Linked DNA regions of Homo sapiens: region 2 is linked to region 1. Evidence: fine-mapped expression QTL. A gene starts in region 1. The other region holds a variant in brackets. All regions are shown on one strand. Distances are from middle to middle. Region 1 holds the start of MFSD1 (major facilitator superfamily domain containing 1). Region 2 overlaps MFSD1 (major facilitator superfamily domain containing 1).

The links.
Region 2: its variant is fine-mapped to the expression of MFSD1 in whole blood (INTERVAL, PIP above 0.99).

What each region holds. Positions count from the first base shown.
Region 1 is chr3:158,792,177-158,806,684 of GRCh38, forward strand. It overlaps MFSD1 (major facilitator superfamily domain containing 1), which reads left to right and starts at 9,878. Exons shown (of 16, transcript NM_022736.4): 1 at 9,878-10,139; 2 at 12,143-12,195; 3 at 13,186-13,298. The coding sequence starts at 9,977.
Region 2 is chr3:158,816,752-158,833,071 of GRCh38, forward strand. MFSD1 (major facilitator superfamily domain containing 1) reads left to right here. Exons shown (of 16, transcript NM_022736.4): 8 at 2,898-2,996; 9 at 3,464-3,575; 10 at 4,846-4,902; 11 at 5,233-5,389; 12 at 6,677-6,774; 13 at 7,373-7,485; 14 at 9,264-9,311; 15 at 10,529-10,586; 16 at 12,228-12,965. The coding sequence ends at 12,231. Among named protein-coding and RNA genes, the nearest start is that of MFSD1, 23 kb to the left of the region's middle. The variant T/A (reference allele first, on the strand shown) is at 8,091.

The sequences.
Region 1 (14,508 bases):
TGTGAGGAAGGAAAAATACAGCGAGTATGTTTTTACAATTGAAGACAAATAAATGTATAGATAGGTAGACGTATGGATGAATACATAGTTGGATACATACACAAAGAGAAAGAAAATAGAAACAGATTAAGAGAAGAATGCATGAACAAACAAAACATAGAGGCATACATTTATCAAAAATTGAATACTGTAGGACATAAATGTATTCATTGGCATTCGAAATTTGGGGCATTTTAGGATCACATTTCATCCAAGGCGTGGTACCTGTCTTTGTTCCCAACCCGCGAGTCCCTCTCCTCTTGATCCTAACATACCAGTTTAGTATCTTTGGGGGTAGATCATTTATCTCTATTTAATTAGTTTTCAAAACAGATGATAAGAATGTGCCTGTCTGGAGGTCTGTATAAAAGGAACTTTTTTTACTGTCTAATCTTTGTTCAGTCGTTAATTTGTATTGAAATTCCAGGGAATTATTTATTCTGCTCCTTCAGAACTCAAGTTTGCTATAAACAAATGAGGAAAACAGCAAATTATTTCCTTGGAACTGAATAAAAATAAATGTAAATGATTCCTACGCGTTTTGATGTACAAAAGTAGTCCTACCTTATCCATGGTTTTGGTTATCTGCAGTCAACCTCAGTTCAGAAGAATGAAATGGAAAATTCCAGAAGCAAATAATTCATACGTTTTAAATTACATGCCATACCGCGTATCATCATGATTTCCCAGTATGAAATCATCCCTTTGCCCAGTGCATCCACTGTTTCCACACTCCCCGCCAGTGAGTCACTTGGTAGCTGTCTCAGTTATCAGATCAACTGTTGCAGCATCGTAGTGCTTGTGTTCAAGTAATCCTTATTTTAATAAAAATGCCTCCAAAGTGCAAGAGTAGAGATGATGGCAATTCGGATATGTGAAAAAGAAGCCATAAAGTGTTTCCTTTAAGTGAAAAGGTGAAAGTCTTCGACTTAATAAGGAAAGAAAAAAAATCGTATGCTGGGGTTGCTAAGATCTATGATAAGAATGAATCTTCTCTTTGTGAAATTGTGAAGAAGAAAAAAGAAATTCATGCTAGTTTTGCTGTTGCATCTCAAACTGCAAAAATTATGGCCATCCATTGTGTGCCAAGTGCTTAGTTAAATGGAAAAGGTATTACATTTATTGGTGGAAGACATGAAGAGAAAATGTGTTCTGATTGATGGCAATGTTAGGCCAAAAAGCATTCAGCTACATGAAGACTTCAGCAAGGGATCCCCTAAAACTAGTGACATCAAGCCATTTACTGCAAGTAAGGGATGGTTAAACGGATTCAGGAGTACAGAAGGTCAATGGTAGCTTATTGCTGTCACAATGACTACATCATTCACCTCACTTCATCTCATCATGTAGGCAGTGTATCATCTTGCATCAACATAAGAAAATATGTACAATACAATATTTGGGAGAGAGGCCACATTCACATAACTCTTTTTACAGTGTATCATTACAGTTGTTCTATGTTATTATTAGTTATTATTGTTAATCTCTTACTATGTTTAATATATAAATTAAACTTTATTATAGGTATGTATGTATAGGAAAAAAAACATAGTTTACATAGGAGTTCGGTACACTCCATGGTTTCAGGCATCTACCTGGGGAGTCTTGGAAAGTGTTCCCCCAGGATAAGGCGGGGGCTAGTGTACAATAAAAAGCAGTATTTATTAAGCACATAAACATTCTTTCAGATCTATTATTCATTTATTTAAATTTGTAAACATTTATAGGGTACAGGTGCAATTCTGTTACATGCATAGATCATGCAGTGGTCAAGTCAGGGCTTTTAAGGGTATTCATCACCCAAATAATGTACATTGTACCCATTAAGTAATTTCTCAGTACAGAATTTCTCACATTCACCCTCCCAACCCTTCACCCTTCTGAGTCTCTACCATCTATCATTCCACTCTCTATGGCCATGTGTTCACATTTTTTAGCAGTCACTTAGGAGTGAGAACATGAACTCCCTAGACCTCTCAGTGGACACTTTCCTGCTATCTTGGCCACTAGTTTTGCCAGTTAGGCTCTAAAATATAAGGACAGCCTTAGACTCCTAGAGTACATATTTTTCTTTTAAAATTGGTACTTCATTTACATAATAATACAAAAACTTTTCATTCCTGTGATTACATAAGTCAGCATAAACTATTTTTCATGAGTCACTATATGGAAGTAAACCAACGTCTAATCCCATGATCCAAATCAACGCAGTTATTTTCACCAGACTTCAAAGGCTGTCTTTGCACATCTTCTATGTAGAGTTGGATGAAGCTAATATAGAAGTTGAGAGAGTCAGAATCTCTTTCTAAGGCCTTTGTATATGATGTTGTTTTTGCCTGAAATGCCCTTACTCTGCCCCTCCAACCCCCACTCCCAGTCTTCTTCATTCTTCAAGATCAAGCTCATTTTTCACTGCTTCTGGGCTCCCAAGCAGAACCAGACACTCCTCTCTTGTCCCATACTAGAAACCTGCACTGCTGGTGGGGAGAGGTGGGGGTGGGGGTAGACCGGGGAGACAAAAGAAGGCATTGAAGGGGTTTACATCTTGGCTTCCAATATGAAGGATGAAGATAAAGAGAATGTTTTGGCTCACACAGCACTCAGGAGTTGTAGGAAGTAAATGCACATGAAGACTGAATCCAGAACTTGGATTTTTAGGAGTTACCCTATTCTCTTTTCTGTCTGTGTGGCTAACTTTGCTCCAGAGGCTGCAACCACCCCCACACCTGTGAAACCAGGCTGGTCAGTCTAGTGACCTTGTGTCCAAGATGATAAAGCCTATACTTACACCCCAAATTGCTTTCACTTTCCCATCACTTGATAATTATAAAATAAGTGCAATTTGTTTGGCTAATAATAGGTCAACACAGTTAGAATGAGCAAGTTCATTGTGGACAGGAACAGGTTTTTCCACAGCAGTAAGCTTCCTTTGTTACACCACTAGGTGGTGTAACGTGCTCCTGATTTAAGGGATTCACTTATTAAGCAGTTTTCAAGCTGGCCCTGTTCTAGATGTTTGAGATACAAAGATGCACAAGACTCTTAGGAGGTCAAAGTGTGGTGTATATAGTTTCAGATTTACAGAAAAGTTGTAAGGCTAGTAAAAAGAGTTCCCACATACCTCTACCCAGACACCTGAAATGGCAACATTTTACCATGTTTGTTTTATTCTCTCTCCATATACATATATATCTAATATATGTACATGTCCTTTGACTTCTAAATATCTCAGTATGTGTTTTCTAAAAACAAGTTCCTCCTCCTCCTCCTCCTCTTCTTCTTCTTCGTCTTCGTCTTCGTCGTCTTCGTCTTCGTCTTTTCTGAATTTTGCTCTTGTTGCCCAGGCTGGGGTGCAATGGCTTGATCTCAGCTCACGGCAACCTCCGCCTCCTGGTTTGAAGCGATTCTCCTGCCTCAGCCTCCCGAGTAGCTGGGATTACAGCTATGCGCCTCCACACCCGGCTAATTTTGTATTTTTGGTAGAGATGGGGTTTCTCCATGTTGGTCAGGCTGGTCTTGAACTGACCTCAGGTGATCCATCCGCCCTCCTTGGCCTCCCAAAGTGCTGGGATTACAGGAGTGAGCCACCACGCCCGGCCACAGGTACCTTCTTTTATAACCACAGTCCAGTAGTCAAAATCAGAAAATAAATGCTGACAGAATACAAATTACTTACAGAACTTAGATTTTGTCAACTGTCCCAATAATGTTCCCTATAGCCAAAGAAATCCTGGATCATGTGTTGCATTCAGCTGTTATGTCTCTGGAGTCTTCTTTAATCAGGGCAGTTCCTTAGTCTTTTATGACACTGAGAAATCAGGCCAGTTATTTTGTATAATATCCTTCAATTTGGGTTTGTTTGATGTTTCCTTATGCTGAGATTTAGGTATGATGAGCTTTTGTTAGGTAAATCACAGAGTTTTGTGTTTTCAGTTTCAGTGCATATCTGGGGGCACATAATGTCACTTTGTTCCAATACTGGTAGTATTAACTATGATCACTTGGTTCACGTATGTGGGCCAGGCTTCTGCACTATTTTTTCCTTTGTCATTAATAAATCTCTGGTGAGGAGCTACTTTGAGATTATGCATATATCCTTTACACTTCAAACTTTTATCCACTAATTTTAGTAACTACTGATTCTTGCCTGGATCAGATATTATGATGATGCCTAGCAAACAGTGGTTTTATATTTCCATCATTCCTTCTACATGTATTGATTGGCTTTCTATTACAAGGAAGAGCATTCCTTTCTCTTCTGTTTGTTTAATATTTATCCCAGGTCTAAGGGAAGAATGTACACTATCTTCACTGCCATTTAACATTGAACTGGAGATACTCACTACTGCAGTTAGTAAAGAGAAATCAATTGAAGGCAGGAGAACTAGAAAAGAGTGAGTAAAACTCTTTGTCTTTGCAGATGGTATGACAGTACACCTGGAATATCACAGAAAATTAACAGCAAAACTAAGTCAAACTAGAGAAGAATTCAATAAGTTGGCAGGACATAAACTTAACATACATAAATCAACAGCCTTCACATACATAATCAGTAACATGACATAAAGGTAGAGAAAACTACATTTACAAAAGCAACAAAGAATAATAAATTTAACAAGAAATTTGTAAAATATATATGAAGAAAACTTTAAAACACTCTCAAAAGACATGAAATAGTTTGAAAAACTGGAACACCACTTTTTTTTTTTGTATGTGATGACTTAACATTAAAAACTAAAGTCTCCTTAAGTTAATTTTCAAAGTTCATTAAAAAAATACCAGTTTTCTTATGGAGCTAGGCAAGCTGATACTAATTTCAGGTGGAAAAATATGGAAGAATATCCAGGAAAACAAAAATAAAAGCTATGAAAGGGGACTACATCTACCAGTCACTAAAACATATTCTAAGGCCTCTAAAATAAAAACAGTGGTCCTTGTGCATGACAAGAAAGAGCAGTACAACCGAAAAGAAAGTCCAGAAGTAAACCCAAATACATATGGGAATTTAGTATGCAATAAAGGTGGCATCTCAAATCACTTGGACAAAGATGGACTTAACAATTGGTTAGCCATTTAGAAAAAGATAAAAAGTTTGATCCATACCTCATACTAGGCAAAAGAATAAACTCCAAATGGGTCAGGAATCTAAATCTAAATAATGAAACCATACAAGTACTAGAAAAAAAAATGGGTGAATTCTTCTTTAACCTGGGTACAAGGAAAGGATTTCTAATTATGTTTCAAAATCCAGATGCAATAAAAGAAAAAATTGATAAATTTGACTATATTCTAAAAAAAACCCTTTTCATGACAAAACAAATAAGCCAAAAACTTCATAAAGACAAAAGACAACTGTGAAACTGGGAGAAAAAGGGTAATACCCCATTAATGTACTGTTAAAATTGAGACGAAAGACTTCTTTTGTGCTTAGGATATGAAAAGCTGCAATGAACATCTTTCCTTTCTCAATAATGAGAAAAACTCAGATGAACTACAAAGTCACAACCTTAACTGAAACCATCAGACACAGCTGGGTTGCAAGGTAACCAGGTAGCCTGAACTCCTGGGAAGGGCAAGCCCCCAAGGAGAAGTTCTCAGGCATGCACAGGGGAGTTGGCACTGACTAAAAAGCTCTTTCCTGTGTCCTTCTCTGGATGCTCAGTTTGGTGGGTACATTACCTTTTTACCTTTTTTTTTTCTGTAGGTTTCACATTTCTATAATAATTTTTTGAAGCCCTGAGAATTAAAGCAAGTTTCCACACTCCTAGAACCAGTTTTAAACCCATTCAATTAATCAACTGCCTCAGTAAAACTTGTTTTGAAAAACCCCTCCTTTCTCAAAGTCAGCCAATGACAGGTTCACTCCAATAAATTCAGTGGAGAATTAATAACAGTCTTACCAGAATATCTACTCTTCTACAGGTGATGGCAAACCCTTTTGCCTCTGAAATGCACCTATTCCTGAACTCTGTATTCCCCAAAGCTCCATAGAGCATCAGCAGCCAGCTCTGCTTGGGGAGACTGTGCCGACCCAGCATAGCTTTTCCTTATTAGAGTACACAGTAAATCCAGTTTCGTTGCTTTTTTTTATTTTTATTTTTTTTGAGGCAGGGTCTTGCTATGTCACACAGGCTGGAGTGCAGTGGTGCAATCACGGCTGACTGCAGCTTCTATTTCCTGGGCTCAAGTGATTCTCCCACCTCAGCTGGGGCTACAGGCGCATGTCACCACACCTGGCTAAGTTTTGTATTTTTGGAGAGATGAGGTTTCGCCATGTTGCCCAGGCTGGTCTCCAATTCCTGAGTATAAGCAATATCCCCACCTCAGCCTCCCAGAGTGTTGGGTTTCCAGGTGTGAACCACGGTGCCTGGCCCAGTTTTGTTTCTTTTAGTTCAAATATTGATGGTTGACTCATAATTCCTTGACAAACCAAAGCTCCAAACTAACTAAAAAGATCATTTTGATTGTTGTGCGGGCAACATATCATAGAAATGCAACAACGGAAGTAGAGAGACCAATTGAGGCTGTTGAAAATCTTGCGTGAGAAGCAAACCCCTGGAGTTATAAAATAAAAAGAGAGTTTGGCATTAGAAACTATATGGAAATATTACCGTAAACAGAGTCAAAATAAATATATGCAGCTCCTATCAGCAACAAAGAGCCTATTTAATCAATAAGAAAAAGCCTCAATAATTCATCTGGAAAAATAAGCAAAGGATATGAAGATTATTCCTAGAACAAATATAAGTGGCTGTTAATCACATAAAAGAGGTTCAATATTCCTCAATATAATAGAAATATAAATTGAGACTGCACTATGATAGCAAATTTTCACTGATCATATTTGCAAAGACCAAAAATCTGGTAACAAGCTTGATTAGGATGGTGTGGCAAACAGACTGTTTCCAAGATCGTCCTCAAGAATAAGAACAATTTCTAGGCCACACTGCTGGGCTGAAAGGAAGAAAAACAACTGTGTGTAGTAACTCTGGAAGGATGCAAAATAATCTGATAATGATGATTACTTCCCAAGAGTACTGGGTATAGGGAGGCAGGAAAGACTCGCTTTGAACTTTATTCTCTTTGGTACTGTTTGAATGATATACACCAGATGTATCTCTCATCAAAATTAAGCAAAATAAAACAATTTAAAGAGTCTGTTGTGATTGTCTGGGAGAGATCATTCTGGTAAGAGGAGTAGTGATGGAGAACATGCACAATGAGGGTATATTTTGGAAGAGAGTTGACAAGACATGCTGAGGGAGTAGATGTAGGAGATGAAGTAAGCCATCAAGGATGACTGCTAGACTTGCGGATAGCAAGTGGTAGAGAGATGTCCCATTTACTTTGCTAAGGAACACTTAGGGAGGAATAGGTATAGCATGGGTGAGAGAACTCAAGGATTCTGTTTTAAATGTGATAAGTTTGAGATGCCTATTAGTCATCCACATCATCCACGTGATATCAAATAAACAGTTGGAATGGTAGTCTTAGGCTGAAGAAAGGAGTCTGGAATGAAGGTATTTTAGAGGCAACAGCATATAAATCCACACTGATAAACAGAAATACAATGTAAGCCACATAGGTAATTTTACATTTTCTAGCAGCCACATAAAAAGTAAAAATGGGTGGAATTAGTTTACACACACACATATATATATATAAACTAAAATAAAATTATATATATATAATTTTTTTTTTGAGATGGAGTCTCCCTCTGTCACCAGGCTGGAGTGCAGTGGCGCGATCTCGGCTCACTGCAACCTCTGCCTCCCGGGTTCAAGTGATTCTCCTGTCTCAGCCTCCTGAGTAGCTGGGACTACAGGCGGGTGCCACTACGCCCAGCTAAATTTTGTATTTTTAGTAGAGATGGGGTTTCACCATGTTGGCCAGGATGGTCTCGATCTCTTGACCTCAGGTGATCCACCCACCTCGGCCTCCCAAAGTGCTGGGATTACAGGCGTGAGTCACTGTGCCCGGCCAGTTTTAATATATATACATTTAACCTAATATCTGCAAAATATTATTTCAACATGTAATCAGTATTCAAATTAGGAGGTTATTCTATTTTTCATACAAGTCTTTGAAATCTGGTGTGTATTTTATACGTATTGCACATCTCCTTTCCAACTATCCACATTACAAATGATCAACAGCCACACATGGCTACCTACTGGACAGCAGAGGGAGGGTATTTAAAGTTATGGGAATGGATGAGTGGAAGAGAGCTCAGGAATGGGTCTTGCATCATTGAACATCTAGATTTTGAATAGAAGAGGAGGAGCTGACAAATGAGACAGCAAATGAGATAGGCCAGCAAAGTGGGAGGAACACAAGGCAAGTATGGTGCCAAGGAGGCTAAAAAGGAGTGGCTGTCAATTCCATCAATTGATAGAAGTTGAGTAAGATGACAGAGAAGTGACTAATGTATTTGGAAAGATGGAGTTATTACTCCTCTCGGCAAGACAGTTTTATTAGATCGGGAGCTCCTCCACTGGAGCTGAAGAGAGAATGGACTGTGAAAGTGGAGATATGTATAGACATCTCAAAGGCAGCACCTGATCCTTGACACTCTCTCCTACCTCCTTCTCTCTCTAAATTTTGATCTCTATTGGCGGCCCAAGCTAGAAATCTGGGAGACACTCTCAAGTCTTTCCTCTCTTTCAGATCGCATAGGCTATTATTTACAGTTATTCCCATTTTACCTCCTAAATAATTACTGATTTTCTTCTGTGCCATTCCTGCTTTTTATTGCTAACAGGCCCTCGTCATCTCTAATCGTTACGACTGCAGCATCTTCCTAATAATCCTCACAGTTTTCAGCCTCTAGCTTTGACGCCCTCAAAATTCTGTTAGTAAAGCCTGAGGGCTCCCAGAAAGCGACGATGGTGCTGTGCTGGCAGACCGAATGTTTTTTAAAACACAAAGCTTGCAGTCCTGCTGCTGTGCTCAAAATCCTTGCATGGCTCTTCTTGAAACAGGTTTAGTGTTTCTACTCGAGTTCCTTCTCTGTCGTTCAACACAAACACATACACACCCAGTTCTGTTTCACGCTTTTGTCTTTATTATCCCTCGTAACTGCCCGCCCTGCAACCAACCCGCTCAAACAAGCACCCTGACTGGCGCATTCTTACTCATTCTAGCCTGGGTTTCAACTTCAAGGAGCTTCAGCGCCCCTCACTCCCTTGCCCTGAAAGCTGGCTAAACTACGCACCTTTTCTCCCCTTTTGAAATGACCTTTCCAGATATTTCTATGGAATTCAGTGCCATTTTCTGCCGCTGTTCTCACCACATTCATTCATCATGTTTAGTTTTAAAAGTACCAGATTCTGTCGATTTCTCCAACTGAACTCTGAAATCTTTGAGGTCAGGGAGCTTGCCTCATTCTATTTTGTATTCCCAGTACGTGACACATGGCTGGACACACCAGAAATTGTCCGATCAAGTTTGTGGGTATTAAGAGTGGTCAAAGACGCTGGGGAGGGCAGTGCTGGGAGAAGGGCAGCGCGCGTCTTGGCGACCCCAGCGCAGTTCGAACTACTCCGGAGTCTGGTGTGGAGCCGAGAGGGAGCCCCGCACTTTTCTCCCCGCGGAGCTGCGCTGAGTCTGAAATAGGTGTACGCGTCAGCGGGGCAGGAAACGGAAAGACAGTGCAGTAATTGGTGGAAAGCTGGAAGTGGGCACCTCGAGGGCCTCAGCCCCACGAACACAGTCACCCAGGAAAAGCGAACCGCGCCAGGCCCTGTCATCGACCGCTGGGTCCGTCCTCCCAGCGCTCGCGGCCGCTCACATGGGCGTGGCCCTGCGTGACCTGCCGGGGCGTCACGTGAGCTCCCGGAGTCATGTGACCGCCGTCTTGACAGTGTTCCACGGGCGCTGCTTCCTGCCTGGGTTTGGAGTTGTCACCACTTTCCCCTCTCCGTCTCCTGCGGGCGCAATGGAGGAGGAGGATGAGGAAGCGCGGGCGCTCCTGGCAGGCGGCCCTGACGAGGCCGACAGAGGTGCCCCGGCCGCCCCTGGAGCCCTGCCGGCCCTCTGCGACCCCAGTCGCCTGGCGCACCGGCTTTTGGTGCTGTTACTGATGTGCTTCCTTGGCTTTGGTGAGCCGGCCGGGTGGGTTGGGGCTGATCTTTAAGGAATTCCCGACTTTCTCTTCGAGGTAGATCGTCATCGTGGTCACTGGTGCCACGGGGCCTCAGCGCAGCTTCTGTCTTAAGCTCCTGGGCCTCCTTATTTTCCCCTTTGCGATCGATTCCAGCCACACCTGTGGATGTTGCTAGTTACTCCGCGTCCGGAACGTGGAGGTCGAGGGACTGAGCTGGGCGAGTTTTGTGGCACTCCTTTGCTCTTCAGTAAGTCCCAGGGGCTAGCGACTCGCCCTAGAGGCGATAGATATGAAGGTAACTCCAGATTTTCAAGGTTCCTCTTTTGGCACACGTGGTCGGAGGAAATTCAGAAAGCTTTAACTGTTCCTAAACAACTTTTGTTTGTTTGGTTTTAGGTGAGACAGGGGCTTGCTCTGTCACCCAGCCCGGAGTGCAGTGTTGTGAAAGTGGCTTACTGCAGCCTCCACCTCCTGGGTTCAAGCAATCCTCCCGCCTCAGCCTCCCGAGTAGCTGGGACCACAGATGGGGCGCCACCACACCCGGCTTTATTATTATTATTATTTTTAGACACAGGGTCTTACAATGTTGTCCAGCTTTTAAAAAACGTGAATGATTTCGTCGGCAGTCTTCTATATATTTTTCACCCTCTTTGAGAAAATGTATGAGTGTGTCTTGCTGATAGCTTCAGTGAATAGATATTGTTCTCTTAATCTTCCACTCTGCCACTGTGAAGCAATCATATTGGACGGGACTTGTGGTAGTCTTGACAGTGGTTGGTTTCTCTTATGAAATCTGATGTCTCCGAAAACAGTTTCTTGATAATTAGAAAAAAATTTTCCTTCCTATGTTACAGTTTTTAATTTATTAAGCAAAATTCTAATATTAATTTGGTATGAATGTGTTTTTCAGGAGGCTAGCTGGAGCCCGTGTAATCAGCAGGTTTAAGAACATTATGGTGGATAACTATTCTAGCGCTGAACATATAAGTAGACATGAAGGATGCTTTGGGCTTTGGTTTCCTTGCAACTCCTTTTTCCCCCCTCCCCTGTTTTTTAAAAGATGATGCCCATCCATTAGCTTTAAAGCAGGACGTTGAATCCTTAAAAGAGATTAAAGCAGGGTTTAGAAACAACCACCACCACAACAAAGAAAGAACAACAATAAAACATTAAAAAAAATGGTCCCCACTCAAGCAGACAGACAGTTTTTGGTAAATTCTGGTTATCTGCCTAGAATTCAGAAGCCAGATTCATTCCTTTCTAATGACAGTTTTTATTGTCATTAGAACCAATAGCCTCGTGCACTTGTAGAGTTAGTAGAGCTATGGAGGCAATATTTTCTTGTAGCCTACGAAGGAATCTCAATTATTTTATCTTTAAAATAAATCCGAGTGCATGGTCAGATCTCTCCCTACTTCTCTCTTTCCAGTTCCCCCAAAGACATGTTTTAATTTAATCCTTTAGAATTCTCAGTTTCATTTTTTTTTCACTCCTGGCCCTGTATTCACTAAATTATTTGATTTTGGGTAGTTTGTAGAATTAGAGAACTTGTTTCAAATATTGGTTTTGTCAGAATGGTTACACTCCATTCCTTTGTCCTTAAGCTAACATTATTAGGAAACTGATGAGGTTGTAAAGTTTTTAGTGTATGTGTGTTTGTAAATAAGGAAATAAATAAAATATAGATGCTTCATGAAGATATTAATAAAATAGTATATGTGTGAAGCATGATGAAAGTAAAATAGAAAAATATTTAATTGTTGGTTGTTGACTTTTTAATTCAGGTTCCCAGTATTTGCTGTGTATGAACACTACCAATTTATGGAAGTTATTTGATATAACTTAGAAAATACTGGTGGATAAGGAAGTGGTTCAGAAATATTTCTGTAGTGTCAACCCGTAGTATCAGCATTTAAAATTGTAATTTCAGTAGCAACTGCAACTTGAAACTTTTATATGGGAAGTATTATTACTTATAAAGTATTTGCTCTTTTCTAGGCAGCTATTTTTGCTATGATAATCCTGCTGCCCTTCAGACTCAAGTTAAACGAGTAAGTTGATTTTTCACTCTTGTTTCTTTTGTTTTCTTTAGAGCAAGTGTAGCGGTGGAGGCATTATCAACCCTCAGGTGCCCTAGTCTCACGTGTCCGCTGAATCTATTTTGACATCTGTAGTCACCAAATCCACAAGTTGCAAGGGGTGTTCTTAAGTTGAAATGAGTTACCACAAATAATTCATTTATAGCACATATGTGACTTGAAATTGTTTCAGACCTTAGATAAATAATTATGTGGTATTTCCACAGTATTGTCAAAAATATGAGCAGGTTTTTGTTTGCATTTCACTCTCCCAGTGCTTAGTCACCCGAATGACAAATGATTTGTTAAGATAGCTTTTTGCCTTCTTAAATAGGTTTTAGTTGTTATTTTGTTTTTTAAATGTGGATACTGATTGCAGAGGATTGTCCATGTCAGGATTTTTAGTCTGGTTTTGTATTGTAAGAACATACTTGATATTTACAGTTTTTTGGGTATTTAGTCTCTTTTCTTTGTAGGTTCTTTTTAACCTTTGGACAGGGAAAATGCATAGGTTGACCCTTTTCATTCTAGAATGAAAGAGAAAGGAAGTAGGAGGAGCATGCTTGAGGGGATGGAGAGGGTAGGGTAGGTAGGGATAGGCTAAGATTATCCTTGTATATGTGGGCAGAGTCCCCAGTGCAGGTAGTATATAGAAGTTATAGTCAGACAGAAGTGGTCCCTGTAGCAGGGTGTCTGATCCTGGAATCCAGGAAGCCCCTGAAATGGCATGTGAACTCAAGAAGTTCCCAGGGTTCCCAGGTGTGACCATTTTCCTGGGCCAGGGGCCATAGCTTTCATGAGATTCTCAAGGAAGTTAGTGAGACTTATAAATGGTTAAAAAAAACTTGCCCTTTACAGAAAGAAGAATGTAACTACTTTCCACTTTAGATTGTCATATTTTGATTTGTTAGTTGCTAAACTTAACTGTTTGGAAAAAAATAGTTTTATTTTCTTTTCATATAGGATATGCAAGTGAATACCACGAAATTCATGCTGCTGTATGCCTGGTATTCTTGGCCCAATGTAGTTTTGTGTTTCTTTGGTGGCTTTTTGATAGACCGAGTATTTGGAATACGGTAAGCTTGAAAAGAAACTATGGGTAAATCTTACCTGATTGTTAGAAAAATACAGAGCTAGATTAAGGTATTTCTAGAAAGAGCTGAATAAACTTCTGTATTAACTAATAATTTGCTTGAGTTTTTTAAAAAAATGATTTTTATATCTCTGGAGTTGGTTTTTGAAACGTGGTATTTCAGTTAAGGTCAGGACTAGTAAATGCTGATGGTATAAGGTAACTCAGTTATCCATAGGAAAATTATACTCACCCTTGGGATCAGGTAAACCAGGTTCTGAATCTTATCGTTGCCACTTTCTCATCTTCCTGGCTGTTCTGAGCTGTTTGCAGCTTCCTGAGCTTCAGTTCTCTCATTGCCAAAATATAGATGATTCCTACCTTGCAAGGTGGTTATGAGGATTAAGTGAGAGATGGATGTACAGTATTTGGCACATAGGTAGTATGTGCTTCCTCCAGCCCCGGTGAGATTTTCTATTTCTGCTTTTCTTGGGGTGTAAAACATTTTGTGACCACTTCTGTTAGAGGCTGAGCAGGGAATAACACTATAAGGTTTGCCACTGTTCATCCTTATTATTGTGTGTATGTTGTTAGTGGAACTGAAGAGGAATATAGACTGGGAATATTTTCAGAAGGCAAAGACCAAGATGATGAAAGGTCTTCAAACCATGTCTGGTGGATAAAGATTAAAGAAACTTTAAGAGTTTACACCTGGGGACTAACCTTTAAAATTTTTGAAGAGTTAAAATATGAAGGAAGAATTAAATTTATTTTTTTTGATCTCAAGAGAGAGAATTAGCTTGAAACTTCTGGGGAACAGATTCCTTTTAATATGAGGAGTTTGCTTGGTCAGATTGGCAGGAGATGACAAGAATTGTCTTGGAACCATAGTAAGTTTTCCAGTGCTAGAGAACATTGCTAGAGAACATTCAGTAGAACATGGCATGGTCATTTCACAAGGATCTTGAGAGAGATTTAAGTTTAAGAAGTATGGTTTACCCTGATGGCCTTTAAGGACTCTTCTAATACTGGCATTTTATTATTCTAGGGCAACATTAATCTGATGTCCAGATTGTAGGATGTTAGATTTGTATAACATGGTTGGTGTTTGTCCTTTTAAAAATTGGTTTTAGTTATCAAGAATTATAACCACTTAAAATTACTTACTGTAAAATTCCTTGGAATCAATCCTAAACTCTTAATAGAAATTTTAT
Region 2 (16,320 bases), 25 kb after region 1:
TAGGTTTTCTTCGAGGGTTTTTATGGTTTTAGGTCTAACGTTTAAGTCTTTAATCCATCTTGAATTAATTTTTGTATCAGGGGTAAGGAAGGGATCCAGTTTCAGCTTTCTACATATGGCTAGCCAGTTTTCCCAGCACCATTTATTAAATAGGGAATCCTTTCCCCATTGCTTGTTTTTCTCAGGTTTGTCAAAGATCAGATAGTTGTAGATATGCTGCATTATTTCTGAGGGCTCTATTCTGTTCCATTGATCTATATCTCTGTTTTGGTACCAGTACCATGCTGTTTTGGTTACTGTAGCCTTGTAGTATAGTTTGAAGTCAGGTAGCATGATGGGACGTGTCTCAAAATAATAAGAGCTATCTATAGCAAACCCACAGCCAATATCATACTGAATGGGCAAAAACTGGAAGCATTCCCTTTGAAAACTGGCACAAGACAGGGATGCCCTCTCTCACCACTCCTATTCAACATAGTGTTGGAAGTGCTGGCCAGGGCAATTAGGCAGGAGAAGGAAATAAAGGGTATTCAATTAGGAAAAGAGGAAGTCAAATTGTCCCTGTTTGCAGACAACATGATTGTATATCTAGAAAACCCCATTGTCTCAGCCCAAAATCTCCTTAAGCTGATAAGCAACTTCAGCAAAGTCTCAGGATACAAAATCAATGTATAAAAATTTCAAGCATTCTTATACACCAATAACAGACAAACAGAGAGCCAAATCATGAGTGAACTCCCATTCACAATTGCTTCAAAGAGAATAAAATACTTAGGAATCCAACTTACAAGGGATGTGAAGAACCTCTTCAAGGAGAACTACAAACCACTGCTCAATAAAATAAAAGAGGATACAAACAAATGGAAGAACGTTCCATGCTCATGGGTAGGAAGAATCAATATCATGAAAATGGCCATACTGCCCAAGGTAGTTTATAGATTCAATGCCATCCCCATCAAGCTACCAATGACTTTCTTCACAGAATTGGAAAAAACTACTTTAAAGTTCGTATGGAACGAAAAAAGAGCCCGCATCGCCAAGTCAATCCTAAGCCAAAAGAACAAAGCTGGAGGCATCACGCTACCTGACGTCTTGTAGTGTCTTTTAAGGAAATTACCTCCTGTTCAATTTCTTTTTCTTGTAGTGTCTTTTAAGGAAATTATCTCCTGTTCAATTTGGATCCTATTATAATATAATTACAGTTGTTTCAACAAGACTATATAGGTCACTACTGTCCCTAAGTTCTCTTAGCTATGGCTCCATGGTGCTAGTTGCTGGGTGGGTCACTGGGAAGGGCACGAAGCCTTCTGGGTTTACCACTTTTGCTTTTTCTCTGGGCAGGCAGTTTGTCTAACTGAACCCTGTGGTGTGCATTTGGCTGTTTGCAGGGCTGTAGAGAGACCTGTGTGATGATAGGGTGAAAGTTCTGTGCCCAAGATGTGCACATCTTTTATTCCCTTTTTCCCTAATTTTTAAATTGACACATAATTATACATATTTATGGGTACAATTTGATGTTTCCATACACAGATACATTGTGTAACAATCAAATCAGAGTATGTAGCATATCCATCACCTCATGCGTCTATCACTTTTTTGTAGTGACAACACTCAAAACCCTCTCTTCTAGCTATTTTTTAATGTATAATCCCTTACTGTTAACCATAGTCATCCTGCTGTGCAATAGAACACCAGAATTTACTCCTCCTAATTGTAACTTTGTACCCCTTGATTAATGTCTACCTGTCTTCCTTTCTCCAATCTCCTCCCCAGTCTCTAATTAAACCACTGATCTACTCACTACTTCTATAAGATCAGGTTTTTAAAATATATATATATATTTTATTCCACATATGCATAGTATTTGTCTTTCTGTGTTTTATTCCTTATAATTCCTTGGTCGATACAGCCTGGTAAAAGAAGACAGTGGAGTGGTAATCCTAAGCAGGCAAGCATATTTAAAGATTCTTTCAAACTCTCCCTCTCAAATCCTTTGCCTTACTTAAAACCTCCTTTTTACTCTTAAAAGCTTCTTAGTATTCCATCTAATTTCCTCCACAATGGGAAATTTTAGAGTAAGACTTTTAGAGCCAGAAAAGACCTGTGCCATCATCAGGTCAAATCCTCTTATTTAAAACTGGGGAAATTGAATCCAAGAGAGCTTGTGTTCCATGTCCAAGGTGATTCAGCTCGTTAGAGCTCACGTCTACTGATGCTCATTTCAGCGAATTTTCAACCGGGCTGTGGTAGGGCAGTGAATTAAAGATTCATTTATTTTATTAAGCTTCTTTTGGAAATTCTTCCTGAGAAGTGTATCGTTATTCACTCTTTATCCTGATTTTCTGTAGTGATATGAGATTGGTATTAGAGAGAAATGCTGATCTCACAGGAAAGAGCTTGAGAGTACTGCGCTTTGGGAGGATGGGGCACTTGGGCTGCCAGAGGGCAGGAGCGAAGGCCGTGGACTCTGGGAAAACATCGGAAGGAAGAGAGATGAAGAGCCTAACTTGGCTTCATCATTTTTTCCCTGGTGTCCATTGACAATTGGTGCTTAGACTGAATGAAGAAATGAGGACTACATCAGTAGCTGCTCATCAGTTTTCTTCAGTCTGTATTCTGCATTACAGGACTAGACTAGTTTTTTCTAGTCTTTTCCTTTTAATCTTTAACTTTGAACTGTGAAATAATGCAGTAAAAGCTACTACTGTTTGCTGAGTATTTGAATGTACTCTTCCTCTTTTGTCCCGATTTAGTAATTGCAGATTTTTCTCGTGTCTTTATGTGACATCCCTTTCAGTTGCTGTTTTTGCTGTTTATGTAATGTACTTCTCCTTAGGAACCTTCTGTTTGGTTCTCTTTTCAAAGTCTGTTTTTCTTTTTTTTTTTTTTTTATTTAGGGGGTATAACGTGTATTCTTTCACTAATCTGTGCCTTGGCTCTTGCCTACTTGGATCAGAGAGCAGAGAGAATCCTTCATAAAGAACAAGGAAAAACAGGTAAGTCTAAATGAAAGAATGGGACTTAGGGGAATTACGGCCTTTGTGAGATTTTATAATGAGATCTAAGTTCCTAATGAAGTGTTGTAAAACCAGGTGGAGCTTAAGACATGATTTTTATTTTTTATTTCCAAATTGATTTCCACTTTTCTAAATTTTTAGATGTATTTTCTTTTCCCCTTAAATCTTTTGGCAGAATTTACATTCTCGATTGTATATTTGCAAAATGGTTATTCTTGGAAAGGAGCAGGAAAGGTAGATGCCAGTCTTAGTCTTAGGTTTTGCTTTTTCTTATGTCTTTGTAAGTTATCCCAGAAATGATGTTTGTGTAATTTACTAGAAAAGTATTTTTTTAAGTTGAATTGCAAAGATTAATCACAAGATTTTAAAAAATAATCTTGACTATAGATGAAAGCTCCTTAGGTATGCAAAATTATGCTGATAGTGTCTTCCCTTTCTTCTCTAAGGTGAAGTTATTAAATTAACTGATGTAAAGGACTTCTCCTTACCCCTGTGGCTTATATTTATCATCTGTGTCTGCTATTATGTTGCTGTGTTCCCTTTTATTGGACTTGGGAAGTGAGTATTCTCTATGTTTCCATTATTTCTTGTCTAAATTATCATGAGAGTTCAATCACATAAATGTAGTTTTTAAAGCAGTAAATCTTGCTTCTCTGGTTATAGTTTATATTTTCACAGGAATTACTTTAGATCCTGGGATATACATTTTCTTTTAGCTTAAGGTTTAGTATTGGTTTTATACTTTTATTATTCTTTTGAAGAAATACCTGTATTACTCCACTCTCATGCTGCTAATAAAAAACTGCCCCAGATAGGGTAATTTATAAAGGAAAAAGATTTAATTGACTCACAGTTCCATAGGGCTGGGAAGGCCTCAGGAAACTTATAACCATGGCAGAAAGGGAAGCAAACATTCTTCATTCACATGGTGGCAGGAGAGAGAAATGAGTGCCAGCAGGGGAAATGCCAGCTGCTTATAAAATCATCAAATCTCGTGAGAACTCACTCACTATCACGAGAACAGCTTGGGGGAAACCACTCCCATGATTCAATTACCTTCTACAGGGTCACTTCCATGACAGGTGGGGATTACGGGGATTACAATTCAAGATGAGCTTTGGATGGGGACACAGCCAAACCATGTCAATACCTAATAATTTTTGATTCATAATATTGATTTAATAGTTGATTTTAGACTAGTATTCTTTTTCATTCCCTCTTTATTCCTTGGTTAGAAAGGCTCTTACTGAGAATGGAGACTGTTTATTGGTGCACTGTGCCTGGGAACATCTCCATTGATTAGGACTGTAATTCTGCCAGACTTAAATTCTGGGTTCAAAGCAAATTCTTCTTTGCTTTATCTTCTACTTCTCTCTCCTTTTTCATTGGCAGCTGCTTAAGCAGCGCAATGTAAGTGTGTTTGTGTAAGGGTATGGTTTATACCCTTTGAGTTCAGGCTGTCCTTTTAAATAGTTTCAGACAAGAACCCTGTTTATTATTTAGCAAAGAACCCATTCAGTACTGCTTTTAAGGAAAAGAAGCAGCCTTAAGTCCCTGTGGTAGTATATTTGATTTTCTGAAAATTTGTGTGTATTCCTTACTGCATACCAGAAAAGGAAAAAAATATGCATCATATGTCATTTAGTCAGTAAACATTAATATAAATACTGAAGCTTTAGCAGATTGCCTGAAGGTGAATATAAATAAGGTGGGAGAATAATATCAAGAAAGAAGCTGATTAAACTTGAGTTATTTTTATTCAACTTTATTTTTTGAAAACAGAGTAGTTCTCTCTAATGTGCTAATTTCTCTGTCTTTTTAATTTTAGAGTTTTCTTTACAGAGAAATTTGGATTTTCTTCCCAGGCAGCAAGTGCAATTAACAGGTATTTTAAAATTAATTTTGTAAGTGCCTATTGCATGTGAAGTATGGGTCTTTATAATCAAATGTTAAAAGAAGCAAAAAAGATGTATGTGACCTAATATTTTTTAAGTGCGAAACTGGGACTACATTGGGACTTGAATCCTGAGTGGCTGTGTTTAAATTAGTGGAAAACCAAAGAAGTCTTGAACTGCTTTTTATATTTTTTGATGAGCATTTTATAAGAATGTTAAATGAGTTAGGATTTGCTTTGCCTGATATTTTCAAGACTTTCTTGAAACTGATGTTTGACTGTGTTGCATTTCATGAAATGTCTTATGTGTTCTCTGGGCAGTGTTGTATATGTCATATCAGCTCCCATGTCCCCGGTGTTTGGGCTCCTGGTGGATAAAACAGGGAAGAACATCATCTGGGTTCTTTGCGCAGTAGCAGCCACTCTTGTGTCCCACATGATGCTGGCCTTTACGATGTGGAACCCTTGGATTGCTATGGTAACGTCTGTGTTAGCCCATGGTGGGGTCAGGGCTTCAGCAAGGAGTCTGTCATGTTCATCTAAGTAGGCACGCTCAGCAAATTCAGATGACAAGGCCTATGATAGTGGGGAGATGACAACTTGATTCCAATATCTACAAAATAATTATTTTTTAAAGTATAATTATGAATTATTAACATATAAGGTATCTTTTAATTTCATTTGATTTATTTAACCAGTTAACTTCAGTGCTGAAAGAGAATTTGAAATAAAGTAGCCTTATAAAAGCCAGAATGCTTATTAGTCCCATTTGTTTTTCTAAAATAGGTGACTTAAAAGAAGGCATTCCATCATAGATGGCAAAAAACCAAAAATCTGTTGGACCAGTAACTCTTCTTTTTCTTTGACTTGCTTAGTAGGTTAAAAAGTGATAATGAATTCAAGTTTTTGTTATTGTTGTTCAAAACATCATTTTTAAGACCCGAGGCTCTAGTGCTGCATTTCCTACCTGTTAATAAAGGAATATCTGGAACATAAATATTTGTGCAGTGAGTGGGCATTTCTCTAGAAGTGTTTCAACAGATACAGTACAGACTCCTAGAAGTAGAGATGCTACAGCAGTGGGTTTGCGTATTTAACATCTTGGTTGAGATTGTGAAACTTTCTCCGATAACTTTCTACCCATTTATAACTTTAGTAATATACAATGTGACTTTTTTTAGTATCCTTGCTAGTATTGGGCATTGTCATTGTTTTAATCTTTGCCAATCTGATAGTTATAAGTGATACTCATTTAAATTTAAATCACAATATTTCTTTTTTAATTGAAGAAAAAATCAGCATTAGGTGAGGTTTACCAAGCATTGGTGGTGATTACTGGGTATTGGTGGCTCAGACGTAGGATGATGGACTGTTGGCATGATATTGCCTTGATTGCCTAATCTGTAACTCCTAATAAATACTGGAAAATTAGCTTGCCTGAAACATTGGTAAGAACTTTTTAAAAATTACCTTTATTTTCTTACTTGGTCCTTGACTGCATCTTGGGCCCCAGCCAGTTACATATGCATATAATATGATGACAAATGAAAATGGTTAAGACAGCATGTATCTTGTCGCTAAAAGGATACTCTTAGGGCAGAGACTTGTTTTGTATATTTTGAATACGAATTTTAGCCTAATAACAACAAAATTTGCTTGAATATATATATATTAACTACTCTGTCACTTTTGCTAATCTGCATTAAAGGAAAATCACCTTTTGGTTAATGTAAGACTGTGACCTTTTCTGCGTTGCTTTCTGTAGTGTCTTCTGGGACTCTCCTACTCATTGCTTGCCTGTGCATTGTGGCCAATGGTGGCATTTGTAGTTCCTGAACATCAGCTGGGAACTGCATATGGCTTGTAAGTATTTACGCTGTGGATCGTATATGTCTGTCTCTGCTATGTCAATTTAATTATCATATAAAACTCCAGATCTGAATCTAGTCGTCATCCAGCCTCTGGGGTAGCGCTGAACCTGGAGATAACTGGAAAAGTCAGTAAATCTATTTAAGATACTGTTGTGGCCACAAAAGAGCCTCCAGCAAGAGGGCTGGAGTAAGCTAACCCAGAAGAGGTCCTTGCTGACATTATAATCTCCCTGCCTGTTTATGTGAGGCTTCTTAGTGAGAAGCTGAGTCCAGTTCCTGGCACAGAAAGGCAGAGGGGGGAAACCGCACCTGTGGTTGATATTCACATGGCCCTTCTTTCATTCAGCACAAAGGTATTGAATCCACATTGCACTTAATGAGACAAGCTCCCTTACCTTTGAGCAGTCTAGTAGTGGAAATAGTTATGGGATAAAAACCAATCCAAAATCTAATCAAGTCATCCCTGGTGGAAAACATCTCTGAACACAAATAGTATATGGTTCACAGATACTAATATTTATAGTGAAGTGTTAGCCTATGTGTGAAGACTTTTGAAAATGAAATGTGTCTTTATATTTCTTCCATTGTAGCATGCAGTCCATTCAGAATCTTGGGTTGGCCATCATTTCCATCATTGCTGGTATGATACTGGATTCTCGGGGGTATTTGTTTTTGGAAGTGTTCTTCATTGCCTGTGTTTCTTGTGAGTATTCCGTATGACAACATTTTGTTTCTTTTACTACATAACAGAATGTTCTTATTTTTACTTAGGCATAGCTCCCAGATTTGCCTAATTCTCACCTGTGAATTAGAATTTCATAGCTGGTGACTTTCTAGCCCTCTGAAGATTCACAGGCATTTTTTAGGAGATTCCTATCCTTAAAGGCAGTGATTGAGTTGGTTTCATATTCTGTTTTAACTATTTACAGTTTAAAAAAAAAAAGCATTTTCCCACTTAAAGTGGAACAATTTGAAGAGTCCTGAGTATATCCTTAATGTGACTATGTGGAAACGTTGGTGTGATTTAGGTGTGAGTACTCATGGTTATTCATTAGGCAGTTTTAACTGATTTTTATTTTTAGTCCGTAATTTAGTTTTTACCTGTAATTTCATTGGTTTGAAATTGGAAGCATTAGGAAACTTGAAAAATATATAAAAATAATAGCATTTGTCCATAGGTAATCTTTACCCTACATATAAATTGTGTTTATCTGAAAAGAAAATTCTCCTTAACACATCAAGATGTCTTTTATAGTTCAATATTGTGCTTAAAATGACAAACCACAGTGATGATTTTATCAAACTTTG[T/A]TTTCATTTATAGGGAATAAAGACCATCCATACCTGAAGTGTGGTATTTGCAGATAATTGCTTATGAGTTGCCTTGAGTGCATTTTATTATCTCATAAATAAACGTGCTTGTTTTAGAAACAAGGACGTCAAGTTTTAAAAATAAATGTTTAAAAAAGTGGGTCATATAAGAATTTCAGACATTAAATCATAAAATGTTTTTTGTCTATTTTTGTTGTTGCAGCATGTGGTTAAATGTCAGTCCACAGTTCAACATGTATTTGGGTCTCAAAGCAAACAGTGTGCCGTTTGAATATGTTTTTCTGTTATTTTATTTTATTATTATTACTTTTTTAGAGACAGGATTTGTCTCTGTCACCCAGACTGGAATGCAGTGGAGCAGTCACAGCTCAATGTAACTTTGAACTGCGGAGTTCAGGTGATCCTCCCACCTCAGCCTCCGTGATAGCTAAGACTACAGGTGTGCACCACCATGCTTGGCTGGTTTTTAAATTTTTTTGTGAAGATGCTGTCTCACTGTGTTGCCCAGGCTGGACTTGAACTCCTGGCCTCAAGCGCTCCTCCTGCCTTTGGGATTACAGGCATGAATCAAAATAATAAGATAATAGGCCTGCCCTATTATTTTAAAGTAAATTAAACAGTGTTCTTCACTTATTAAAGGAAAAAGCCAAGGGAAAACTTGAATTTTGAGGTCTTGATTGATTTGAGTCTAATGATCACATTTTAATGTTTGGTTACTTGAAATTTGTAAAATGGACATGGCATTTTCAGACTTAAAGCCCCCAAAAGACTACTATTTGGCTTCCTCTGAAATGATAAACAATCGGGGGCTGGCAGGAGTTTTTGGTAAGTCCTGCAAAGGACCAGCACTGAGAAAGGGAGAGGAAAGAGGGGCAGGGCTGGGCTGTGGCTGGGTCGGCTCCCTTTTTTCTAGGGGCCTCAACTTCTTTGTTTCTGGCCTGCCACCCCTGGGCTGAGTAGCCCTTGGAGAAAATAGTGTGTAACTTATTTTTAGTGCTTTTGGAAAATAAAATAATGGGAATAATATTTTTATTTAAAATAGCAATTAATAAAGGTTTGATTGTGTCTAAGCTTTGCTTTGTGATTATGATTACATAGGAATCATTGAGAAGAAATACATATTTTAAGGGCCCTATGTTTTTTCACTCCTAGTGTCACTTTTATCTGTGGTCTTACTCTATTTGGTGAATCGTGCCCAGGGTAAGTAGAAGATCTGATATTTGCTTCTTAAACCGCAGTGGATCATCTTGTGGGGTCTCTGGGTCTGCCTCTTTGGGGGCCAGTGCTTTATTCCATGCAGTAATGACTTTCTGTTCATAATGATGGAAACACATTTGATTATGTAATATATAATTATGTTTTCTGGGCCTTCATATTTATTAAGATTGCTGTCATTTTTTAAAATCTAGCCAGATGAGTTTCTTAATAATATAAAATCTTAGATGTTATTTTTATATTAACATAAAGAAATATAGCATTTAAAAAGTAACCTAAAGCCCCTCTGTGTTATTGTCCTACGTTAAAAGAAATCAGAACTAAGCAAATTTATAGCTATAATTTACATTTTAAGGTTCAAGATGTTTGGTTTAGAATTAGAAATTACAGATTTTTTTTCTTTTGCTAATTCGTACTGTATGCATTAGTGGATTTTTGTTGTTGTTCTTGATAAGATTTTGATGTTGTCATTAGTAATTTTTCTAACTGCTTGCTCCTAAAGAGTTTTATATATTTAGTAGAATATAATATATATGCTGTGTAAATAATTTCAGGTCATTTCCTTTTTTTTTTATTTTAATAGTTTTTTTTTTCTTTTCTTTTTTTCTTTGACAGAGTCTCACTCTGTCACCCAGGCTGGAGTGCAGTGGTGCGATCCCAGCTCACTGCAGCCTCAACCTCCCAGGATCAAGTGATCCTCCCACTTTAGCCTCCCAAACAGCTGGGACTATAGGTGTATGCCACCACAGCCAGCTAATTTTAAAATTTTTTCTAGATATGGGGTCCCCCTATGTTGCCCAGGCTGGTTTCAAACTCCTGAGCTCAAGCAATCCTCCCGCCTTAGCCTGGGATTTACAGGCGTGAGCTACCACACCTGTTCATTTCCTTTAATTTCTCTTAATTTTCACTATTATTGAATATTAATACAGTGTCCTAAGTAACAACACTTGAAGCAATACATAAGTCCAAACTTAAAAAAATGCTTAAATTAAGGGGTGATTATTTATATCACACAAGAATTTCATTTTTTCCCTTTGGGAAGGTTCCAGTAGATAAACCATTACTTTTTCATCGTCGATAGCTTTTTCTATTACTTAAAATACAGTGTATCTATGCAAATGGTTGCATGTATGTATGTATGGTTGAAATTTACTTACTGATAATACTTATATGGAAAAGATCTATGTTTATTTGTGTTTTAGGTGGGAACCTAAATTATTCTGCAAGACAAAGGGAAGAAATAAAATTTTCCCATACTGAGTAAGTATTAAAAGGGTAAAAAGTTGTCTTTATTTTTGAAATCTTAAATATGAGCATTTCGTTTCAAGGTTTGGGCTTTGAAGTTTTTTTTTTTTTTTTTGATTCCCATGCTTGTCGTCCAGGCTGGAGTGTAGTGGCATGGTCACAGCTCACTGAAGCCTCAACTTCCTCAGCTCAGGCAATCCTCCCATCTCAGCCTCCCAAGTAGCTGGGACTACAGTTGTGTGTCAACATGTCTGGCTAATTTTTTGTATTTTTAGTAGAGATGGGGTTTTGCCATGTTGCCCAGGCTGGTCTAGAACTCCTGGGCTCAAGTGATCTGCCTGCATCGGCCTCCCAAAGTGCTGGGATTACAGATGTGAGCCACTGCGCCTGGCCTGGGCTTTGAACTTCTAAGAGATTAGTTTTCCTTGAGTTTTGAGAGCTAGCTATTATGTGTGTGGAACTATTATAACAACATTCTTGTTTGCTTCAGAAAATTTAAAAATGGATATTAAGGCTTGAAACGAAGAAAAAAAATAATTCAATTTAAGTTGTTCTCTGTGAGACAGAGAGAGACACAGAGAGAGAGAGAGGGGGAGAGAGAGAGAGAGAGAGAGAGAGAGGGGGAGAGAGAGAGAGAGAGAGAGAGAGAGAGAGAGACAGAGATCGATCTATATTACTTGTAATTTATTGGAGGAAAGGCCTTCGTCCTGAGGTCCTGGACTGGGCTTACCCTTCCATTCTCTCAGATATTTTCTTTTTCTTAAGTAGTTGATAATTTTTCATCTTCTTCTGGTACCAATATGTGGTTCTGTGTTCTCTGATTCATTTGGAAGAGATTTAAGTATATAGCATGGTGATTAAGTTAACATTTCTTTTTCTAAAAGTATGTACTGAAACATAATAGTGATTCTGTTTCCTGTTATTTCTAATATTTTTAGACATTGAAGTTTTTATGATTTTAAACATTTATTTGTAAATATATATACCATGTGATTGTAATTGTTGTGACTTTTGACTAGGTTAAAATCTGGTAGAACAGTCTGTTTTTTTGAGATGGGGGTGGTTTTGGTCATATTAAATTCACTTTTAACAAATACATCTTAAAATAATCAGAAGTATGAGTTTTGAATATCTTTATGATAGTCATATTATGTTAAAAGTTTGGAAACAACATAAATGTCTTAGAGTAGGGAAAATGGTTAAATATATCATGACACATCCATGTGATATGTTGTTAAAACCATGTTTTAGAAGGATTTTTAATGTCATAGATGCTTAACATGCCGTATGCTAAGTAAACAAAAGATAAAAATGCAAATATAATATCCTAATTTTATTCAAGAAAAAGTATGCTGTCACATGCTTGTTTTAAACCCAATTACTTATGTATAATAGAAAATATACTACTAGAAATAACCTCATATTAATTGAAACCTCAGAATATTAATTAAAAACTCAGAATATTTTTCAAATTTTCTACATTGATCTTTTGTGACTTTTAGGATCAAGAAGAGTTAAAAAATTGCTCAGAAAAAAAATGTGTAGCTTAGTATTTGCTATTACATGTCTTGTAATGCTTGGTTTTCATTTTATAAGGCAGGTGAGCTTCATGTTTTTTTCTTCCTCTTTGGTAATTTATTGCGTTATGTTTTGCAGATGAGAAGTTAAAATGAATGTGTCATGAGAATGGGCTTAACACATCGTTGGTTTGAAAACTTCCATTTTTAAAAATTTAGAGTTTAGTCATTAGAAAAAATAATGGACTGGAAAGTTATATTTATATCCAAATATACCTATTTCAAAGTGTATTTGTGAGGCCTGTTTTAGCCTGTGTCTTTTGTATTGTGTGTTGCTAAAGAATTCTACTTTTAGTAGGCTAATCAACAATGAAAGGGTTAGAAAATTGCTGTGGAACATCCAGGTGAACTTCAGGAAAGACAGTGAAAAATGGAAAACGTTGGAGCTTCTGTTGAGATAATCTTCATTAGGTATATATCTTAGGGATACAGCCTTTTCTTTATCTTATAGCAGGAAAAAAAAACTTTTGAGGGAAATAGAAGGGCTGCGTTACACAAAATAAACAATGGCATTGTCATAGGCCTTCCTTTTACTAGTAGGGCATAATGCTAGGGAATATGTGAAGATGTTTTTATGAAGTCTCTTTCTGATCACGAACAATAGCTTGCGCTCTACTCTGTAGTTATGTGGATTGCCGAGCAATGACCCTTTTCAATTTCTTATTTCTGTGTTACTGAGGACCCTAATCACTTAGGGATGTAATTTTATAGTATAAACTTTCTGTACAGTTTTTCTTATAGTCTAATAAGTAAAAAGTGTCCTTCAAATTATGATAATTGCCTATGTACATGGATAAATTAAAACACTGCACACGGAGTACTTGATGTCTTCTTTTGATTTTAAAAAATACAAAAACACTGATTTTAACTTTTATTCATGCAGAAGATTATCTAGAAGAAAACCCAAGTCAGAATAAAGAGAACTTGCCCAATTACAGTCACTGAAAGATTATGGGGGTAGCTTTTTCTCCAGAGTAGAACTTTAAGTAACATATGTGGTTTTTTTTATATTAAGTAAAATATGAGTATGAAGCTTCTCTGACAAACTTTAAATACTTTTTAATATTTTTCAGCCTTAACATATTATTTGTTAAAGTCAAAGAATGCAGATATTTTAGACAAGATATTAAACCAATGTATTTAGCTGATTATATTGTTTAAAGCACATGGCATGATATTGTAAGTGTAAATGTTTGGGAACAGATTGAAAGTACGTTCCTTATGCAAGGTAGCTTGGCAGCTTTATTTACATCTGTTTTTCTGACTTACAGTTTATTGTGTTGATATGACTTGTCTCTGTGTCCCTACCCAAATCTCATCTCGAATTGTAATCCCTATGTGTTTGAGGGAGGGACCTGGTGGGAGGTGACTGGATCATGGGGGCAGTTTCTCCTATGCTGTTCTTGTGATAGTGAGGGAATTCTCATGAGATCTCATGGTTTAAAAGTGTGGCACTTCCCCTTCACACTCTCTCTCTCTCTCCTACCACCATGTAAGATGTGCCTTGCTTCGCCTTTGCCTTCTTCCATGATTTTAAGTTTCCTGAGGCCTCCCAGCCATATGGAAGTGTGAGTCAGTTAAACCCCTGTAATTTACAAATTACCCAGTCTCAGGTAGTATCTTTATGGCAGTGTGAGAACTGACTAATACATGTGTCATTATTGAGTTGTTAGTTCTTTAGGCTCTGACGCCATATGACTGTTTCAGCACATGGGTGTTGAATACCTCACAAGTGGGGGAGAGTGCAGGAAGTCCACACTACTTCTGCTGGAAGGCCCATGTGGCCTGGCCTCTTGCCTTGTCTCTCCACCGCCTCTGTGCCCCAGCCACAGTGAGCTGCTTACATGTTTTCAAATGGGTTGTGTTCCTTTCCCTCCCAGCGGCTTTGTCCACACTGTTCCCTTTGCTTAGAATGTTTTCTCCAAGGCTCTCTAGAACCTGTTTTTACCTGATTTATACCAGAAAACCTTAGCCCCCAGCCCAGAACCATTCTTCCTCATGGAAGCTCTTCCAGATCCTTCAGGGTGTATTGGGTTCTTCTAAGTTGCTGTGATCTTGCAGTTTTCCTTTTTAGCTTACCTCAACTTAAAATAATGAAGAATCTCTGATAATGTGGGTGTGGGTGTCTCTCTCTTCCTTAAATTGGAAGCTCCTTGAGGGCAGGGACTGCGTCCGTTTTGTTATCGATGATTATATTGATAGTGCCTAGCAAAAGTAGGCACAAAATAAATATTTTTTTGAATGATATATAAAAAGAGTAAATTAGAATAACCCTTTTGGAGGATGAATTGGCAATATGAATAAAAAGACCTAAAAGGGGGATGGTGGTGGGCTAAATGCCTTTTGGCTTAGCAATTCCATTTCTAATAACTTGTCCTAAAGAAACCATCAGACAAATATACATGTAAATATATTTTAAGAAAGCGTCTTCACTGCCAGATTTTATAATAGCCTAAAGTATAATAGAAAGCCACTCTAATTTACAATAATAGGGGATTTGTTAAGTACATCATATTACATACCTAAAGTGAAATATTAAGTAGTCATTAAATGGTTTTGTTAGAGAACATATTGACATGGAATAATGTTGATGACATTTTCACACGGAAGATTCATAGTGGTGCCATTTTTATAAAAACAAATATATCTGCATGATATGTACACCAGTGTCTCTGAATGATGAATTTCTATTGGCTTATTTATGTTTTCTGATTTTTTTTCACAATAGCTCTTTATTGTGTAATGAAGGTTTTAAAAACCCCACAAAGAATATAGTTCAATGCAAGTTTGAGTCCTGCTGTTTTAAAGTGATAATGTTCAGAAGGGAGGAAAGGAACAGGTAGTGTTTTTCAAAGAACTCTGGGGGTGAAGATGGGAGTTCAACAGTGCCATGAGTTAGAAATCAAATTTGCATTGCCAGGAATAAAATTGCACGTAAAGGGAATTTTCAGAGACAAAATGGAAAAGAATGGTGTCAAGGATAAACGAAACAATGCCTTTATTTTTTAGTCCTAGTATTCACTGGTAGCAAACAACAGCTCCAACTTGTGTGCATGCTGCTCATGATATCTGGAAGGCCTCAACTGCAGCCTCATATCCTTTGCCCTCTTCCATTTGAGTGTTCCTGAGTGCCCCAGTGGGGATTTGGTTGTAAGCCTTCAGCAGTGATTTGCTGCCAAAAAGTTCATGGAAGAAAGCTTTGAGTTTTTGTAAGAAATACTAAAAAGCCCTGACATCGTGTAGGCCAGACAGCCAAACTTAGTATAACTTATTAACATTTATTTCTCTCAAGTATATTAGTGTATATGGTCATGCATTCCTGTGCACATATCTTTTCTTCAGTGGATCTTTATCAGTTCCAGGTTCTGGCAGCTGCCTGCTACAGTAATCCACTGTATTCCCAAAACTGATCTTCCCCTTGTAGATTTGGCAGATTTATTGTGTAATGCAAATCAGTGGACCTACAGGGCATTTCATTTCAGATTATCATGTACTTGTAGGCATTTGTCATTTTGTCTTTTTGAAGAGGATCACCTTCGGTGTGTGTCTTCCAAGTTTTACCACGTAGTAGCTTTTGTGTTTCCATTTTCTTATTAGCAAAATAGAAGATCACTAGAGTTCCTTCTATAGCACTCTCATTCTTAATTTATGAGACATAAGGATATGGCTAATATATGTTAGATGTGTATTGGTGGATGACCTAAAACATCTACAAATTTATCTCTCCATACCTTGTGTAGTTGATGGGTTGGGCAAGCTGGGCCTTCCTGGATTGCATTCACATTACTGTGGTAAGTAAATGAAGCACCCTGGAGGGGCAACAGAATGCCCTCTGGAATTTCTAAAAGTCAATGAGTTATCCCAAACAGCTGAAAGTGTGGGCTAACTTCTTGCAAGTCTTGCTCCCTCCCGCCAATATTGAGGCTTGTTCAGTTTTCCAAGGAAAATCCGATTATTGTGGGGGTTCTATGTCTTACCATGTTCAGATAGTTTTTAACCTTTGGAAGCCAACCCTGTCTGTCCTGGGGAAGAGGTAACGAAAAATTTCACGACAAATGGGAAACCCCCACCTCCAGCCCAGTAGAGCTCAGATTTCACAGGGTAAAGTGAACAAGAGATGGACAGTGGATAGAGTGGGTGGGAGGAGGATGAGAGAGAGGCTGGGCTGGAGC